Regions from separate parts of the Homo sapiens genome. Here all the other regions are reported to be linked to region 1. The links are microRNA targets in miRTarBase. Many come from high-throughput screens and were not tested one by one. Region 1 holds a microRNA gene; each other region holds the end of a gene's coding sequence.

The links. The annotated mature microRNA hsa-miR-4739 reads AAGGGAGGAGGAGCGGAGGGGCCCU and lies in region 1 at 1,408-1,432, opposite strand. An mRNA with a match to its seed (bases 2 to 7 or 8) in the 3' UTR can be bound and repressed. Matches are read on the target gene's strand: a 7mer-m8 pairs with bases 2 to 8, a 7mer-A1 pairs with bases 2 to 7 and ends in A, and an 8mer does both.
Region 2: miRTarBase lists DESI1 as a target of hsa-miR-4739. Seed matches in the 3' UTR shown: 7mer-m8 at 2,055-2,061 and 7mer-m8 at 1,444-1,450.
Region 3: miRTarBase lists SOAT1 as a target of hsa-miR-4739. Seed matches in the 3' UTR shown: 7mer-m8 at 2,438-2,444.

What each region holds. Positions count from the first base shown.
Region 1 is chr17:79,705,809-79,708,883 of GRCh38, forward strand. MIR4739 (microRNA 4739) reads right to left here and starts at 1,441; the gene lies at 1,368-1,441. LINC02078 (long intergenic non-protein coding RNA 2078) reads left to right here and starts at 1,458. Exons shown (of 2, transcript NR_109783.1): 1 at 1,458-1,848; 2 at 2,664-3,075. RefSeq lists enhancers at 1,300-1,921, 1,922-2,543.
Region 2 is chr22:41,598,503-41,601,566 of GRCh38, forward strand. DESI1 (desumoylating isopeptidase 1) reads right to left here. Exons shown (of 6, transcript NM_015704.3): 6 at 1-2,688. The coding sequence ends at 2,595. Among named protein-coding and RNA genes, the nearest start is that of PMM1, 10 kb to the left of the region's middle.
Region 3 is chr1:179,353,193-179,356,256 of GRCh38, forward strand. It overlaps SOAT1 (sterol O-acyltransferase 1), which reads left to right. Exons shown (of 16, transcript NM_003101.6): 16 at 393-3,064. The coding sequence ends at 449. Among named protein-coding and RNA genes, the nearest start is that of AXDND1, 11 kb to the right of the region's middle.

The sequences.
Region 1 (3,075 bases):
GGCCACCTGAGCCCTGAGCCCTGAGCCCTCAGCGGGCTCCTTGGAGAGTGACCTGGACCTTAACATTGACCCTGGCACCCCGCCTGCTGTTCCCCATGACGCCCCACGCCCCCACCCTGCGTCTGCTCCTGTGACTTGAGGAAACGGACCGACCTCCTTTAAAGGAGGGGTTCCTGAGCCTGGGGAGCGTGACTTCCGAGCCTGTCCGAAAACACCAAACGCCAAAGACACCGAAGCTGTTCCACAGAAGCCGCAGCCGATCGAAAGCCATTGCTGCACGGGATTTTCTTTGGAATTGGTTTTTGGTTCAGGTATTTTTTGGATTAGCATCATCAACACTAGAACTCAACATGAGAAATCCTCCTGGCACCCTCAGACCCCCAGGATCCACCCGCAGCGCCCCACCCCTCGGGGGTCTAAGGACGGGGCCACGGGAGGTGCTCCCCACGCCTTAGCTAGACGCAAGGCCCTCCCGCAGGCTCCCGCAAGCCCATCAGGGCTGGGCGTTTCCCACCCCTTCCCACCCCACCCATCCACCTTCCGTCCAAGCAGGAGTGCAGCCTGCTTGGGCTCAGCGTCCCCTCTTCTGAGAAGCAGCCCGGCCCCATCCTGAGCGCCCCTGGGCCCACAATCCCTCCTCACGTGTGTGGGGCTGGCCGTTGATGTCGCCTGGGCTGGGGGTGCACCTGCAGCGCAAACACGTGACTAAGCATCTTCCTGTCCCGGGCCCTATCAGCGTTGGGCCCCAGGCAGCCCCTCCAGGGGCTACAGTCACCCACCCACCTACAAAGCCCCTCATCTGCAGCGGTGGCTTCATTCCCGGGACGCGCCCCAGGCTCTGCTCAGTCATGGCCCCCAGACCCTCAGGAGCCCCCGAAACATGATGACCTCCAGCCACGTGCCAGCTGCCAGGAGGAGGCTTCAAGACCCCAGATGAGCACCCGGCTGGCCATGCCCCAGGGACAGAGGACCCAGTGTGACAGAATCCGGCCTGGGCCACAGCCACCCACACAGTCCATCCCAGTTCAGCCCGAGGTGGACAAGAAAAGTCCCACCAGGGACTGGAGCAGATGGGGCGGGCTCCGGACCCCTGCCTGGTCCACCATCTGTCTTGCCAGTCGGTCCGTCTACCCAGGCAGCCCCTCCTCCCGGCCCACCATCTGCCCGGCCCTGCTAGGCCCTCCTCCTGGCTCCTCCAGGGCCCTCAGGAGGAGACAGAGCTGGAGCCAGGGCCCAGACCTCCACTGCCTTGGGCCCGCCCCATCTGGCACCTCCAGAAGAAGGGGGCGGCAAGAGCTTGGCCAGGGCAGGGGCACTCCAGGGCAGCCGAAGGCCCTTGCCAGCTGTCTCATGATGAGATGAGCAGAGGGAGGGGGAGGGGAGGAAGGGAGAGGCTCTGGGAAGACAAGGGCCCCTCCGCTCCTCCTCCCTTCTTCCTCCCCTGCCCACGTGGCCTGGGCGGGAGGGACACGCCGATGGGAACATCCCAGCTGGTCCAGGCCTCTGCTCCCCCCAGCTCCTCCTCCCTGGCGGGCAGCTCTTCTGGGCTCCTGAGGTGCTGCGCAGCCCCTTCCCTGGCCCTGGGACCCCCAGTGCCTGAGATGAAAGAGGAGTTGCTTCCATGGACGGTCCCAGTGCAAGCTGGGGGGCGCTGGCCTCAGGACACCAGGCATCCAAGACATAGGGACACCAGAAGCCCCGGCTCTGCCTCTGAGGTCCAGCAGCCCCAAAGCCCCTGCTCAGAAGCCAGCGATGGGAGGGCAGGGCCTGCCTGTGGGACCCATCATGGGCGCAGCAATCGCCAGGCCCTGGGCAGACAGCAGCACAGCCTGTGAGTCCAGGGCTGGGGTAAGTCGGCAAGTGCACCCCCGGAGGTGGAATGACAGGAGCTCCTGTGGAGGACGCAGGCGACCCCCGCCCCTCACTCCACTGTGAGGCCTGAGGATGTACAGGGGCAGCTCTCCCTGGCTTATGAAACGCCCCCACCCTGCTGCCCCTCTGGGTCCTCCTCACCCTGTGGCCTGCAGGGTCAGGAGCATGACTTTGGTGTCAGGAGAGAGGCTGGCTCCTGCCTGTGGCGGGTGTTGGGGGAGGAGTGGGGTTCATTATAAATTACGCTCCCCTCGAACCCGGCTGTTAGGTGAGGGCAGGGCTGGGATTCACCCTGCTCTCTGCAGGGGAGGGTCAGCCCCCAGGTGCTCCTGGGTGGGTCTCCACGGCAGGCCAAAAGGGCAGGCCCTGGGCATGTCCACCCCCTGTCTCTGGTCCCACAGCCCCCTACTTGCCACCTGCCCTGAGCAGCCCCCAGGAGAGCACCCGCAGGGAGGATGCTGAGGTGCTGGAGGGCAGGAGTCCCAGCTGAGGCTGTGACCCCAGCTGTGCTCCCCGTTCCCTCTTAGGACCAGCAAAGACCCAAGGACAGGCGGCCAATCAGGGCCCGGTGTTTACCCCTCCTCCCCCACCCCCATCACGGGCCTCCCGCAGGACCCCCAGGAAGAGCAGCTTCCATTGACCAAGGTCGGGGGACGCCCTCCCGCTGACACTCACTCTCCACGGATCCTGGAGCCCACGAGTCCCCTCCCCACCTCCACTGCACTGGGCCCCCCGCAGGCCCTGGTGGGGGTGGCCACGGATAACCACACAAACATGCATTTTCCTTGTAGGAGCAGGCAGGTGACAACCAGTGTCCTACTTTCCTGCATTAAAACACCCAAATCAACAGGACGGAGAAGGCCCGGAAGAGGGGACCTGAGGGAGCCAGCCGGGCGCTCAGCCTGCTTCGCTGGGATGCTTGTCGAGGTCGGGACGGCACCACCAAACTCACCTCTGTGCGCCCTGCGGGGCCCAGGAGACTCGGTCCTCCCTGGGCTCCCCCAGGCCTGGGGTGGACGTTGGAATAAAGTGGGGACAACACGATGAGAGACCCCAGCCCTGGAGGTGCCCTCGGCCAAAGCCCGAGATCAAAGCTGGGAGATTCGTGGCTGGACAGCACCACCTGGTGGACACGTTGGAGATTACCAAAGCCGAACAGTCAATTCGTTCTTGGTTCTGGGATTTTCTTAATTGGGTCTTAGC
Region 2 (3,064 bases), not on the chromosome of region 1:
AAATGGCTGCTAGTATAAAGGGGGGTGCTGTTCAAGGAAATGAGTGACTCAAATTCTCTCAGGGGAGCTGCTCCTGGGCCTAAGGGTGCCTGCTGGAAGAAGCAAACCAGCTGAAACTGGATCTGGAAGAGGAGAAAGGAAAAAAAGGAGCTGTGATGCCCAGAACCCCCTGGATGGAGGGGAGACCCCAGGCAGAGGGGTCTGGAGCAGGACCCTGGAAGACAGAGCCGGGCCAGGCAAGCTGGAAAAGGGAACAACACTGGTGGGAAACAGAGCACTGGCCAAGACCAACCTGCTACCCTCCCAGAAGAAACCCAGCCTCAGAAATTCTTTCTCTTTGGGCCCAATTCTGCTAGTAGATCACGATTATACAACAGTCCCTGCTAGTTTCTGCTCTAATCTATTATTTCCATGCACACTGGCAAATCAGTGGGTCTTGAGAAGAATTAAACTTTCAATCATTTGGCCTCTACAAGTTCCCAAATGTCACTTGACATCCCAGCTGGTCATGCCCCTGGTCAGGTCGCAGGCAAACACTAAGGCAGAATGACAGCTCCTCTAGCTGAGACTCTGATGATGCCAAACTGTGATGGCTGATGGCAAAGATAGCAGCAGATGGGGCCAGAAATGAGCAGCAGCTTTTTGGAGAGGAAAGGCCTGTGCTGCAGGCCAGACTTCCAGGAAGAAGCAACATAATTCAAGTCCGTGAAGTGGCAAGAAGTTGTGGCAGAAGGGGCCCAAGGATGTCAGACCTGAGACTCGGGTACCTGGCAGCTCTGAGTCCCTTCTTCATGCTCACTTTCCCAAAATCTAACTAATGGAGGTTCATGTGAAGAGAGGGAATCTGAAAGTCTCTCTGGATTAGAGACTCCCAGACTGTTCCCTGCCTATAACCTCCTAGCAGCAAGTCATTAGGAAAATGCCCACTCATGCCCCAACCTGCCTTTCTAAAGTCAGAATGACAATGGAAATAACGTGTGCCTTCAAAACACATTTAGGATAAGGGAAAGTCCCTATCAGAAACGATTCTAAATTTTCTTGCCACCTTGATTCCACTTCATTATTTTATTTTTTTGAGATGGAGTCTCACTCTGTCGCCCAGGCTGGAGTGCACTGGTACGATCTCGGCTCATCGCAATCTCTGCCTCCCGGGTTCAAGCGATTCTCCTGCCTCAGCCTCCCGAGTAGCTGGGACTACAGGCATGCGCCACCATGCCCGGCTAATTTTGTATTTTTAGTAGAGACGGGGTTTCACCATGTTGGCCAGGCTGGTCTTGAAGTCCTGACCTCAAGTGATCTGCCTGCCTCGGCCTCCCAAAGTGCTGGGATTACAGGCGTGAGCCACCGCGCCAGGCCTCACATCATTATTCTTTCCATATCAAAGGTATTTTCTGGCCAGGCAGCGGTGGCTCACGCCTGTAATCCCAGCACTTTGGGAGGCCAAGGGAGGTGGATCACCCGAGGTCAGGAGTTCCAGACCAGCCTGGCCAACATGGCAAAACCCTGTCTCTACTGAAAATACAAAAATTAGCCTGGCGTGGTGGCACGCACCTGTAATCCCAGCTACTCAGGAGGCTGAGGCAGGAGAACCACTTGAACCCGGGAGGCAGAGGTTTCTGTGAGCCGAGATCATGCCACTGCACACCAGCCTGGGTGGTAGAGCGAGACTCCGTCTCAAAAAATAATAATAATTAAAATAAAGGTATTTTCTTAGAGTAGGGAATCCCATCCCTTGGTCCCCAGCTAAATACTGCGTACTGGCCTGGATGGTGGTTACAGAGACTGCAAATAACCTACATCATTACTTGCAGAAAAAAGGCCTTGGCTTCTACTGCTCCAGCCCAGACCTCATCCACTATGACAAGTCAGCTATGCTGAGGAAAGGCAGCCTCGGGGGCACAAAGGCAGGTTTCCCAAAATTGATGGCAGAAGATTGGCAATCCATCTAGGTGGAAGGAGGAATGGCTTTATCCTGTTTTCTCCGGCCTGATACTTGCTGTTACTCCCTTGATCCGGAGGCAATGGCTGCTCCAGCACTGGCCTTGCTTGGGGTAAGGGAGGGAAGGTGAGGGTTGTGGCTAAAGAGTTCACTTAGGTTAGGTTAGTCATCCTGAAACCGGTCCCATGTACACCAAATCCTTTGGTTCATTTAACACTAGAGTAACTTTCTGGGTCACGGATGTTCTAAAACTCACCTGGGTCCCACAGGTGTTGGCAACTTGGGTAGAGCGTGAGTGTTCTCTGGAAAGAGTTCTAGGTTGGGGCTCCCGCAAACTGTGACTCGCTTTCTGTTTAAACAAAGCCCCTCCCTTTCTCCAGTGTGGAGGACGCTTAGGAAACAGCATCCGAAGTGAACGCACAGACAAGACAGCCTTAATAAATTAGTATAATACTATTAGAAGGGGTGGCATTTTGTTCTGTTTCTTAGCAGCATTGTCTACATGCGGCCTGACGGTCTCCTTCCCTGGGAAATTTAAAAAGCCGTCCCCTGGTTGTTAGCTCTGATGTAAAATTATAAAATAGAAATCTGGTAGGGTTTGTTTTGTTTAAAAAGGAAAAGCCCTGGTGAGGCAGGGCGGTCCCAGGCAGTCCTGTTAGCTCTGGCCGTTGGGTCTGCCCACGGAGCTCCCTCCTGGAGGCTGGATCTGAATGGAGTCCAGGAGGGGCCGAAGTGCCTGTCCAAAGGGCCTGCAAGGAAACAGAGACATGAGAGGGGTGGGCTCTGGGATGTGGCCTGCTGTCACACACCCTGTGCTGCCCACGGGTAGGGAGGAGGAGTGGGCGCTGGTGGCAGCAGAAGCAGCACCAGCAGAGAAGGAAAGAGCACCTCGTCACCTCACTTAAGTTTCCCACCTGCCTCACACACCAGTGTTCTTGGAGGGCATCTCCGAAATAGCCTGCTCTGTATTTTTATTCCTGGGGTTCCCTCCTCAGGGCCTCACCTCTAGAGCCTGGTTAGCTGTGGTTTGAGTAGGCTGGCTACATACAGAGAACTAGAACTTTCTGTGCTCTATGTGCTTGTGTCTTTAATTCTTGTGAGCAAGGAAAAGATCAAATTTAAGCA
Region 3 (3,064 bases), not on the chromosome of region 1:
TGGTGGTTATATATAAATATATATATATATATCTATTTGTCGTCCTTAACCACCATTTAGATTTTAAGGTACTAAAAGTAGGGCTGTGCTAAAATAAAGATACAGAAAGAAATAGTGCCTATTTAGAAACTGGTCAAAGTCCACACAATTGTGTATAGTTTACTGGACTTTAAAAGCTTTATGTGAAGCACCTAATTGAATAAATCTGTGTTATAGATAAAAGTACTGAACATCTTTTGAATTAGTGAGCTGCTTATACCTTGAGGGTTGTTGAAATGGTGGGAGGCATTTTAGAGATGTACAATGTATCATATTAACATCCCTGCCTATCTCCACACCTCCTCTACTCTGTACACAAATTATTTTTCCATTCTTATTTTTCCCCACTGCAGCCCACATTTTTGGATTATGTCCGGCCACGTTCCTGGACTTGTCGTTACGTGTTTTAGAAGCTTGGACTTTGTTTCCTCCTTGTCACTGAAGATTGGGTAGCTCCCTGATTTGGAGCCAGCTGTTTCCAGTTGTTACTGAAGTTATCTGTGTTATTTGGACCACTCCAGGCTTTACAGATGACTCACTCCATTCCTAGGTCACTTGAAGCCAAACTGTTGGAAGTTCACTGGAGTCTTGTACACTTAAGCAGAGCAGAACTTTTTTTGTGGGGCTGGGTGGGGGGAGAAGACCGACTAACAGCTGAAGTAATGACAGATTGTTGCTGGGTCATATCAGCTTTATCCCTTGGTAATTATATCTGTTTTGTTTCTTGACTCTGTCCAATCAGAGAATAAACATCATAGTTTCTTGGCCACTGAATTAGCCAAAACACTTAGGAAGAAATCACTTAAATACCTCTGGCTTAGAAATTTTTTCATGCACACTGTTGGAATGTATGCTAATTGAACATGCAATTGGGGAAGAAAAAATGTAGAATGATTTTTGCTATTTCTAGTAGAAAGAAAATGTCTGTTTTCCAAAGATAATGTTATACATCCTATTTTGTAATTTTTTTGAAAAAAGTTCAATGTTCAGTTTTCCTTAGTTTTTACCTTGTTTTCTCTATAGGTCATGATTTCTGTGAAGCAAAAAGATGCCTTTTACCATGAATTCTTGAGTTTACATCAATAATATTGTATATTAAGGGGATCAGAAGTAGGAAGGAAAAAATAAGAGATAGCAGAGGAAAAAGAAAAACATTTCCTCTTATAACTTCTGAAGTAATTTGTAAAAAAGATTTGTAGAGTCAATCATGTGTTTAAATTATTTTATCACAAACTTAACATGGAAGATATTCCTTTTTAACTTTGTGGTAACTTCTTTGAAGTTATTTAGAAATATCCTTTGGAACAATTATTTTATTGTCTAATAAATATTGACTTCTCTTGAATTATTTTGCAGACTAGTGAGTCTGTACCATAAGTATTAATCACCTCCACTCATATTAAAGTGATCATTAAGAATCCAGAAGCTGGCTTCTGCATTTGCTCAGTTATACTTTTAATGGTAGTATGTTTTTAGGTGGAATAAATTAATATGTGATTGGTTTCAAGGAAATGTACTCTATTATGTAATACTTCCATTTTATAAGATGCCCATTTCTAATACAATGTGTGTAGGAATTATTTGTATGTATGAGGTATGATTGTAAAGATTGAGCATTGGAAGGGGTATCAGAGACCATGTAGTTCAACTTTCCACTCAAAGTAAGATTTATGAATTATTTAAATGATAGTTGTTACTTGGAACAGCCACTTGAGAGGCTCTCTTGGTATTGTTTGGAATTGTTTTAAAGTCAGTTTGAGTCTCACAAGAAGGTAAGTAGAGTTTCTTAATAGTCACAACTTAATTTGAACCACAAGTATCCAGCTTAATCACGTATCTTACTCACGATACCACTGGTCCAGATGAGTTTAGGTAATTTTCAAACATTAAATCCAACTTCAACGGAAACAAATACACTCAAGGGAAGTTATTTTTAAAAAGGTACTCTGCATGTTCCCGCAGTAATGTTCTGCACAACAGTATTGTAATTGTAATGGAATCATAACCTGCTAACTAGTTTGCTTTAATATGGCTTGTAATTCTTGACATTTTTCTTAAAATTAAAACGAATTTTTATTTTGAATTTATAACTGCATTTTAAATATATTGGGGACAGATTGCGCTGAGACCTGGTTATGAGCAAGCCAATCTTTTGAATCTAGAGAATGGAATTCTTAGGTTTATATTTCTGTTAAGAAATACTATAAATATGACTCTTATGAGAAGACTTTGTTGCTCTGTAGTGTTTCTGAATACTGTATTTGTTGGATTGATCAAGGCTATTTTTCAAAAAGCTCTCTGCTTCCTGTTTGTTTGTTTGTTTGTTTTTGAGACAGAGTCTTGCTCTGTCGCCGGGGCTGGAGTGCAATGGCGTGAACTCAGCTCACTGCAACCTCTGCCTCCCTGGTTCAAGCTATTCTCCTGCCTCAGCCTCCTGAGTAGCTGGGATTACAGGGCCACGCCTGGCTAATTTTTGTATTTTTAGTAGAGATGGGGTTTCACCCTGTTGGTCAGGCTGGTCTCAAACTCCTGACCTTGTGATCTGCCCACCTCAGCCTCCCAAAGTGCTGGGAAGACAGGCGTTAGCCACCGTGCCCGGCCTCTGTTTCCTGTTATTAGTGATTTTCCTGCCCAAGATTGCAACAACAAATATGTAGAACTACAGACTGTTTAGAATGCTGAGACTGTTCTAAGAAACTTTCAAAAACAGTAGCACTTCAAGGAATGGTCACTTTCTATGAAAGAAACTGGTTTGATAGCCATAATCTTATTGCTAGCTGCTTTTAGCAAAAGTCTTTTCTTGAAACCACCACCTATACTCTTTAAACAAATAAAAACTAAAATCTCTTGCTAATGTTTCAGGAAGATTTATTTTTTCTATTTTGCTATTGTGGCGAAAATTATTTTCAGTTATAGGATACTTTTTTCCTTCTGAAAAGTAATAAGCTTAAAGTTTTTGTTTCTGTAAGATGTAATGATAGTAACTATTATTTTGGGCATATTAACCAACAGAACAATTATGTAG